Linked DNA regions of Homo sapiens. The protein of the gene in region 1 binds, or shares a complex with, the protein of each later gene. Each region holds a gene or a part of one and is shown on either strand. Other genes may lie near its edges.

Region 1 (4,078 bases):
CTTGGTGCTGTAAACTATTTTCCTGGGTTCTGACAAAGTTGTTTCTGAATGTTTTTGCTTGATTTTTCAATGTTTCTGTGGAGGAAAAGGTCCTTGAAGCTACCTACTTGGCCATTTTTGCTGATGCTACTCTTGGTTACATTCTGAGGGCCCGACATTGTGTATGAAAATTGGTAGAGCTAATTTATGGTTCTGGATGTTAAAATTATCTGGAGATTTATTTTTGCTTCTGTGAGGCAGTGAAATTAGTTGCATCAGCATTCTCAGATAACTTAAACAGTCATGGAATGAGATGACTTAAAGCTGGACTTCAGGCTGTGTGAGGGCCTACTTCTCACTAACCTTGCACCTAGGATAGCCCCTTGGAGTGCAACTAAAAGCCTGCAAGTTTACTAGGCTCCTTCTTCTTTGGTGGTACCTGCATAGTTTATTTTGGGAATGTGAATGCAGCTTGCCTAACCCTCTAAATATACCCATTGCCAGATAAGAAATTATGGAGCAAGCAGGTTAATGTAGAAACCACATTTATTAACCATGGATTTACTGAGGGCAGTTTATTAGGTATTATCCATCGCTTATGCTGACATCTGATTTTGCAGAGAAATTATAGCCATTATTTTATTAAGATAATTCTACGAGATCAATTTAGTTTCTTGAAGTAGCATATATTCAATTCTTCAATAGGGTTTGGTTTAATTTAGCTATCAAAGTCAGATGTCTCTAAACTTTACACACTAAACTCATCGTGAGCAGAAAATTTATTCTTTGTACATATTCCTTCTGTTTTGGTTCTTCAAGCTGAAACATCTCAACTTCCAGAAATATGGTTGCCAGATCAAAAATACCAGAGTCCTAAGGGTTAAGATTTGAATCGAGAAAAAGATACATGTACACATTGTATTATATACAAACAAGCAACAACAAAAAGTTTCATCATGTAAACAAAAGAATATAAATTATAGACATAATTGGAAGTTTCAAACAGTCCTTAAATCATTGTGAGCTTCTCTAAAAGGCACAGGTCTTGGAGTGTGGGCACAGAGCCATTAGTCAGATGTCTGGGTGGTCTCCCATAATAGCAATGTATACTCTTAAGTGGGCTTTTTGTGAACTCTGTCAGGGTGAATGAGTTAGGCCTCTTAAAGGAATGAAATGCTTTCACATTTGGGGCAACAAGTGAAAAATACTGAAAGGAGGGATACAACTAGGGTTAGATTTATTGTTGACAGTGATTTTAGAAATAACCACTAAAAAGGTGTTAAAAGATTTCTAGATAAAATTCTGACTACTGAAAATAAGAAAGGATACCTTTTGTAGCTCTACAAATGGTTTGGTGAAAAATAAAAAGGGAGAAAGTGAGCCGAGGAGAAAGCGAAATAGGGAAGTCTAGGGAGGATGCAAGAAAATACACAAGTCATAGCAAGAAAAAAAACATGAGATGGTCCTTTCTAAGGACAGATGTTGGTGATATTTACCTATGTAAGCTCAAGCTGAGAAGAGTACAGTTCTTATATATTCATTACTTAATAATATACAAGAAAAATACTTTTCATTTGTTATAAAAGAACTACTTTATATGAAAACTAGAAATACGTATTTACATTGCAAATCCCAAATGAAACCCAATTTAATACAAAGTGAACTATAGGGATGACAGAAAAATGGGTAGATATCAAAATTCAACTGAATTTACAGTACTGCCTTATATCTTTTTTAAATTTTGTTTTTGAGACCGAGTCTTGCTCTGTTGCCCAGGCTGGAGTGTAGTGGTGTACCTTTGGCTCACTGCAACCCCGCTTCCTGGGTTCAAGTGATTCTCGTGCCTCAGCCTCCCCAGTAGCTGGGATTACAGGAGTGTGCCACCACGCCCGGCTAATTTTTAACAGAGACGAGGTTTTGCCACGTTGGCCAGGCTGGTCTCAAACTCCTGGGCTCAAGCAATCCACCCGCCTCAGCCTCCCAAAGTGCTGGGATTACAGGCATGAGCCACCGCGCCCGGCTGATATATATATTCTTTTAAAATCTATACACAAGGCTCAAGTTCTGGGGTTTCAGGTTTTATTTTTAAGTTTTCTTTAAAAATAAAATTGCCAACCCCCAAGTGAATTAAAGGTTGATCTGGGCTCGCAGAGGTAATCTGCTCTTTGTAACCAAGTGCTCTGTAGTTTCTTCCACTTTAGACCTCTCCAGTGTGTTAATGCCTCTGTTTTCTTTGTCTTTTCCATGTGATTTTTTATGCTGTGGATTTAAGGCGGGAAAATTAAGTCAATACAAAGTAACATTAGATACACATTAACTACACTCTATTTTCAAAGTTCTCTGGGTTATAGGCAAAAAAACTTAAGTGTAGAAAACCAAAAAAGGTTCAGCACAAGTTTGAGCCAACAATTTGGCAAGTAGCGCCAAATGCCTTCTTTATTTGATCACTAATGGAAGGAGTAGAGTGAAAGAAATATTAATTTTCTGTGTTATTTTCTAAGACATAGTTATAGATTTTACTCCAGGGTAGTGGTTCTCATCAGGGAGTGATTCTGCTGCCACAGGGGACATTTGGCAATGCTGAGAGACTTTTTTGGTGTTACAATCAGGGAGTGCTACTGGCTTTGAGTGAGTATTCACATAGTACACTGTTTTTCTTGTGTACCAACATAGTACAGTCCACAGGAAAGCCCATCACAACAAAGAATTATCCAGTTTAAAATGCCAATAGCACTGCTGTCAAGAAACCCTGCTCTAAGGAAACAAAGATTTGCTGTCATGCAGAAAAGCCAATTCTGTTTTAAGCAGAGAAACTGGTATATGGGCCACCTTAAAAACACTTTTACTTGTTTTTTAAAATTGTATTTTATTTTATTTGTAAAACCTATTTCATATTCCTCATTTGGAAGTTCTATTTCATTGGAATCCTACTTACCCATACAGAACATTAATGGACTGGTGACATTCATTGTACACTCAGTCATCAATGCTGAGACAAATTGTAAACCAACTTTTAAAGTTTTAAACGCAGAGAAAATCCCCACATCACACTGCTACTAGGGAAAAGATCATTTCTGGACTTCAGCTGAAGGTCTAAAACCCCATCCCAAACCCTTTCTGGTACTGTAGGGACTTCCTTGCCATAGCTGAATCACTAAGCCTAATTCAAAATGCCACAGATAATAATAATAAAACGATTTCTGACCAGGGATTAAGTAGTCACCAGGTTCTCTTATCCTTCCCCCTTTCCTAACTTTATAAGATAGAAGAAAAGGATGAAAACTGAAAGAAACATATTTATAGTTCTCTAATAGTAAGGAATAAAGCAAAAGGTGGCAAGAATTTGGGAATAAAATTGCCCAGAGGAAGACAGGGAGGAATTTATGAGAATCTGAGTTGGAACTTTGTTAACTGTTGAAAGCAGGGATGGAGAATCTTTAGACCTTAAGGGAAGGAGCTGTAGATCTATTAAAAAACAGTTACAGGCCGAGCGCGGTGGCTCACGCTTGTAATCCCAGCACTTTGGGAGGCCGAGGCGGGCGGATCACCTGAGGTCGGGAGTTCAAGATTAGCCTGACCAACATGGAGAAACCCCTTCTCTACTAAAAATACAATATTAGCCAGGTGTGGTGGTGCATGCCTGTAATCCCAGCTACTCGGGAGGATGAGGCAAGAGAATCGCTAGAACCCGGGAGGCGGAGATTGTGGTGAGCCAAGATCAGGCAATTGCACTCTGGCCTGGGCAACAAGAGCAAAACTCCGTCTCAAAAACAAAAAAACAAAACAAGACATACACACAAAAAAGGTACAAGCAGCCAGGCGCAGTGGTTCATGCCTGTAATCCTAGCATTTTGGGAGGCTGAGGTAGGAGGGCTGCTTGAGGCCAAGAGTTCAAGACCAGTCTGGCCAACATAGCAAGACCCTCTCTCTATATATATTTAAAAAAAAAAAAAAAAAAAAAAGGTACAAGCATATGCATCTCAGAAGTAGAACTTCAACTGTAAATGTAGATACCAATGTCCTACGTAAGGAAATTTTTCCTTCACACACTCTGTCTAGGCTTGTACCCTCAAATTAGAGGAAAAGATACCAGCACTTT
Region 2 (4,405 bases), on another chromosome or scaffold:
GGTAATTTATAAGGAAAAGAGATTGATTTGGCTCACAGTTCTGTAGGCAGGGAAGCCCAGTGGTGTTGGCATCTGGTGAGGGCCTTCTTGCCGCATCATAACATGGCAAAGGGCAAGAGAGCATGCATGAGAGCAAGAGAAAATTGGGCCAAACTCCCCCTTTTTATCTGGAACCCACTCAGTGATGGCATTAAATGGAGACTCAAAAGGTGGAGGGGGGCCGGGAGCCGTGGCTCATGCCTGTAATCCCAGCAGTTTGGGAGGCTGGGGTGGGCAGATCACCTGAGGTCAGGAGTTTGAGACCAGCCTGGCCAACATGGCGAAACCCCGTCTCTACTAAAAATACAAAAATTAGCCAGGCGTGGTGGCAGGCGCCTGTAATCCCGGCTACTCAGGAAGCTGAGGCAGGAGAATCACTTGAACCCAGGAGGCGGAGGTTGCAGTGAGCTGAGATCGTGCCATTGCACTCCAGCCTGGGCAACAAGAACGAGACTCCTTCTCAAAATATATATATATTATATATATATAAAGGTGGAGGAGATGGGAGGGGGTGAAGGATGAAAAATTACTTAATGGGTATGATGTACATTATTTGGCTGATGGATGCTCTAAGAACCCTGACTTCAGCACTATACAATCTGTGCATGTAACAAAAGCACTTGTTTATTTTATTTATTTATTTATTATTTTTTTGAGATGGAGTTTCGCTCTTATCATCCAGGCTGGAGTGCAGTGGTGCAATCTCGGATCACTGCAGCCTCCACCTCCTGGGTTCAAGCAATTCTCCTCCCTCAGCCTCCCGAGTAGCTGGGATTACAGGCATCCGCCACCATGCCCAGCTAATTTTTTTGTAATTTTAGTAGAGACGGGTTTTCGCCATGTTGGCCAGGCTGGTCTCAAACTCCTGACCTCAGGTGATGTGTCTGTCTCGGCCTCCCAAAGTGCTGGGATTATAGGCATGAGCTACCGCGCCTGGCTACAAAAGCACTTGTTACCCCATAAACTTATACAATTTCTTTAAAAAGCAGCCGCGATCTCTTGAGGAGGGCAGAGCCTTTGTGACCTAATCACCTCTGAAAGGCCCTGCCTGTCAACACTGTTGCATCAGGGATTAAATTTATCTTTTGAGATGGAGTTTCACTCTTGTTGCCTGGGCTGGAGTGCAATGGTGCAATCTCAGCACACTGCAGCCTCCGCCTCCCGGGTTCAAGGAATTCTCCTGCCTCAGCCTTCCAAGTAGCTGGGATTACAGGCATCCACCACCACGCCCAGCTAATTTTGTATTTTTTTAGTAGAGCTGGGGTTTCACTGTGTTAGCCAGGCTGGTCTCAAACTCCTGACCTCAAGTGATCCACCCGCCTTGGCCTCCCAAAGTGCTGGGATTACAGGTGTGAGCCACTGCACTCAGCCGGGATAAAGGCTCCACCTGTGAACACTGTTGCATTAGGGATTACATTTCTGACACATGAACTTTGAGGGACAAAAAACATAGCAGAGAACACAGCCAGAGAGGGGCTTGGCAAGAAGCACTGGTGACTGGTGACAGAAAATAGGAACTTGCACTACTGTGTCCCTCACCTTCTGATTGTTCTGCCTCAGCTTCCACTCATCTGCCTCCCAGATGGGCCCGCCACTCTGTCCACACTGCTTCTGCCACCTCACCATTGCAAACCAGTGGGGGTGGGGGCACAGGGTGTGTTCAGTGATGAGGTCAGGAGTAGCCAGGTGCCAAGTGCCTTGCAGGCTGTGGTTGCGAGTTTGGGTTTATTCTTGGTGTGATGGGAGGCGAAGGAAGGGTTTTAAGGACATTGTATTTGGGGGTGGGAGTGGCTTATACTTCATGAAAGAGCGCTCTGCTGGGAAAGGTGGTCAGGAGCCGTAGCCCAGAGGCCAGATGAAGCCTTCTGCAGTGGTTCGGACTAGGGATAGTGGCTGGCCCGTGTTTGAGGATGCAGGGCAGTGGGTCAGCAGATAGAGTTAGTAGCCCCAGGGTCATGAGGGTTCTGGGAACCTCACCTCCACCCTCACCCCCAGATTGCCAAGGACATGGAACGCTGGGCCCGCAGTCTCAACAAACAAAAAGAAAACTTCAAAAATAGCTTCCAGCCTATCAGCTCCCTGCGAGATGACGAGAGGCGGGAGTCAGCCACTGCAGATGCTGGCTATGCCATCCTCGAGAAGAAGGTGTGTTGGGGCCACCCCCCTGCACCCTGCCCCACAATCTTGTCCTTCCTTTGGGCCCTCTGTGGAGTCCCTGAATTTCTGTGTCCCTCCACCCCAGGGAGCACTAGCCGAGAGACAGCACACCAGCATGGATCTCCCGAAATTGGCCAGTGACGACCGCCCAGTGAGTGCCCAAGGCAGAGAGGGGCGGGGGCTCTGATCTGGCCAGGCCTGACCGCCCACCCTCACCCTCTACAGAGCCCTCCGCGAGGACTGGTGGCAGCCTACAGCGGGGAGAGTGACAGTGAGGAGGAGCAGGAGCGTGGGGGCCCTGAGCGGGAGGAGAAGCTCACCGACTGGCAGAAGCTGGCCTGTCTGCTCTGCCGACGCCAGTTCCCCAGCAAAGAGGCGCTCATCCGGCACCAGCAGCTCTCAGGGCTCCACAAGGTAACAGCGGATGGTTGGCAGGGCATGCTGGGGCCTGGCCCACTGAGGCTCATCCTCTTCACTTCTCATCCTGTCCCTCTTGCAGCAAAACCTTGAGATTCACCGGCGAGCCCACTTGTCAGAAAACGAGCTAGAAGCACTAGAGAAGAATGACATGGAGGTGAGGTGTGACCTGACCCTGGGCTCCCTCCCCTGTGTCCCTTCCAAGTCCCCATCACCTCAGGCAGCTGGAGTTCAATTTCTCACGTGTTAACCCCGTGAGCCTTCTTCCCCATTTTCCTATCCTGGCTGCTTGTGCCTGTGATGGCCTGACCCTCAGGACCTGAGCCTCATTAGCCAGATGGCATGCCCTGTGGGACCCCACTCCCCATGCCTGTGTTGCCTGAGAAAAGAGACCAGCTCCCCAACATTCACATACACATACAAACTTTCAGCAAATGAAGTACCGGGACCGTGCAGCTGAACGCAGAGAAAAGTATGGCATCCCCGAGCCGCCAGAGCCCAAGAGGAGGAAGTACGGCGGCATATCCACAGCCTCTGTGTGAGTGGCTGGGCCAGGTGAGGGGGTCTGGAGCCCGGGGCCGGGGCCGGCAGGCCGACCACTCATGCTGTGCACCGCCCCTGCAGAGACTTCGAGCAGCCTACTCGGGACGGGCTGGGCAGTGACAACATTGGCAGTCGGATGCTGCAGGCCATGGGCTGGAAAGAGGGCAGCGGCCTGGGCCGCAAGAAGCAGGGCATTGTAACGCCTATCGAGGTGAGTCTCAGGCAGTCCTGTCCCATCCCCCAGCACCCCTCACAGCATCCCCCACCAGCCTGACAGAGCCTGCCTCCCTCACACAGGCCCAAACACGGGTGCGGGGCTCCGGCCTGGGTGCACGGGGCAGCTCCTACGGGGTCACCTCAACCGAGTCCTACAAGGAGACACTGCACAAGACAATGGTGACCCGCTTCAACGAGGCCCAGTGAGCAGCTTCAAGAGCAACTTCTCCACATGTTGGGTGTCCATCCTGGGGCAGGGAAGGACAGAGTGTTGGATGGCTGGGACGGGGCCTTGCTCTTGTCGGCCAGCCCACTCCCCAGCCAGAGAGGGCTTGACCAAATCAAATTGAGGTGGTGACTTTTGTTGGAAAATTGGGCTGGGATCACGTCCTGTTTTGTAATAAAAGCTGAAAAGTCTGCATGTTGGCCTCTCCTCTTTCTCGTGCTCTAGCACAGTTGTATAGCCTATACAGACACGGGGACCCAAGCAGATGGACAGGGGACCTTATCAGGCCAAGGTGGATGGCAGTGGTGGCATTCAGTGTCTGGAACATAATGGCTACTAGAACATGGGGTTCTGACCTGTACCCCGACCCATAATATCCTGGTTATGGCCCCTCTCCCTTGTTGGTTCCAGCAGGTTATGTTGTACCAGGAAATCTAGCACCACCAGGCATGAAGCGCCCCCTGATCAGAGCTAGGACTGGGAACCCCCATCCCCTGTCCTTGCTGCCCCCTGGCTTTACTTAGCCTGCAGTCCCAAGGCTAAACTGCATTTTGCCATCCCTAGATCTGGAGACAATGCCCTCAGGCATCTCCAAGTAGAATACAAGAGGTACTCAGGTTCCAGTTGGCCCAGAGCCCTCAACAGGCTGATGACAGAGGGGTGGAGGTGGAGCTTGGCCTGCAAATCCAAGGCCAGGTCCCAGGGATGCCCTTTGAGAACCATTCAGGCCTACCTTCTCTGTTGTTACCACAGTGCCCCACCCCTCTAGTCACTGCAACCCATGATTCCCAAGTATGTGCTTGTGCT

Evidence for each region.
Region 2: KIF11 (region 1) and RBM10 share a complex: the UniProt entries of both Homo sapiens proteins name them as parts of the large chromatin remodeling complex.

What each region holds. Positions count from the first base shown.
Region 1 is NC_000010.11:92,651,825-92,655,902, reverse strand, and holds the end of KIF11 (kinesin-like protein KIF11), read right to left. Parts: intron 2,239-4,078; coding exon 2,107-2,238; 3' UTR 508-2,106; downstream 1-507. UniProt on the Homo sapiens protein: Motor protein required for establishing a bipolar spindle and thus contributing to chromosome congression during mitosis. Required in non-mitotic cells for transport of secretory proteins from the Golgi complex to the cell surface.
Region 2 is NC_000023.11:47,183,021-47,187,425, forward strand, and holds the end of RBM10 (RNA-binding protein 10), read left to right. Parts: intron 1-2,034; coding exon 2,035-2,184; intron 2,185-2,281; coding exon 2,282-2,347; intron 2,348-2,421; coding exon 2,422-2,610; intron 2,611-2,695; coding exon 2,696-2,770; intron 2,771-3,044; coding exon 3,045-3,151; intron 3,152-3,237; coding exon 3,238-3,367; intron 3,368-3,453; coding exon 3,454-3,579; 3' UTR 3,580-3,793; downstream 3,794-4,405. UniProt on the Homo sapiens protein: Binds to ssRNA containing the consensus sequence 5'-AGGUAA-3'. May be involved in post-transcriptional processing, most probably in mRNA splicing. Binds to RNA homopolymers, with a preference for poly(G) and poly(U) and little for poly(A).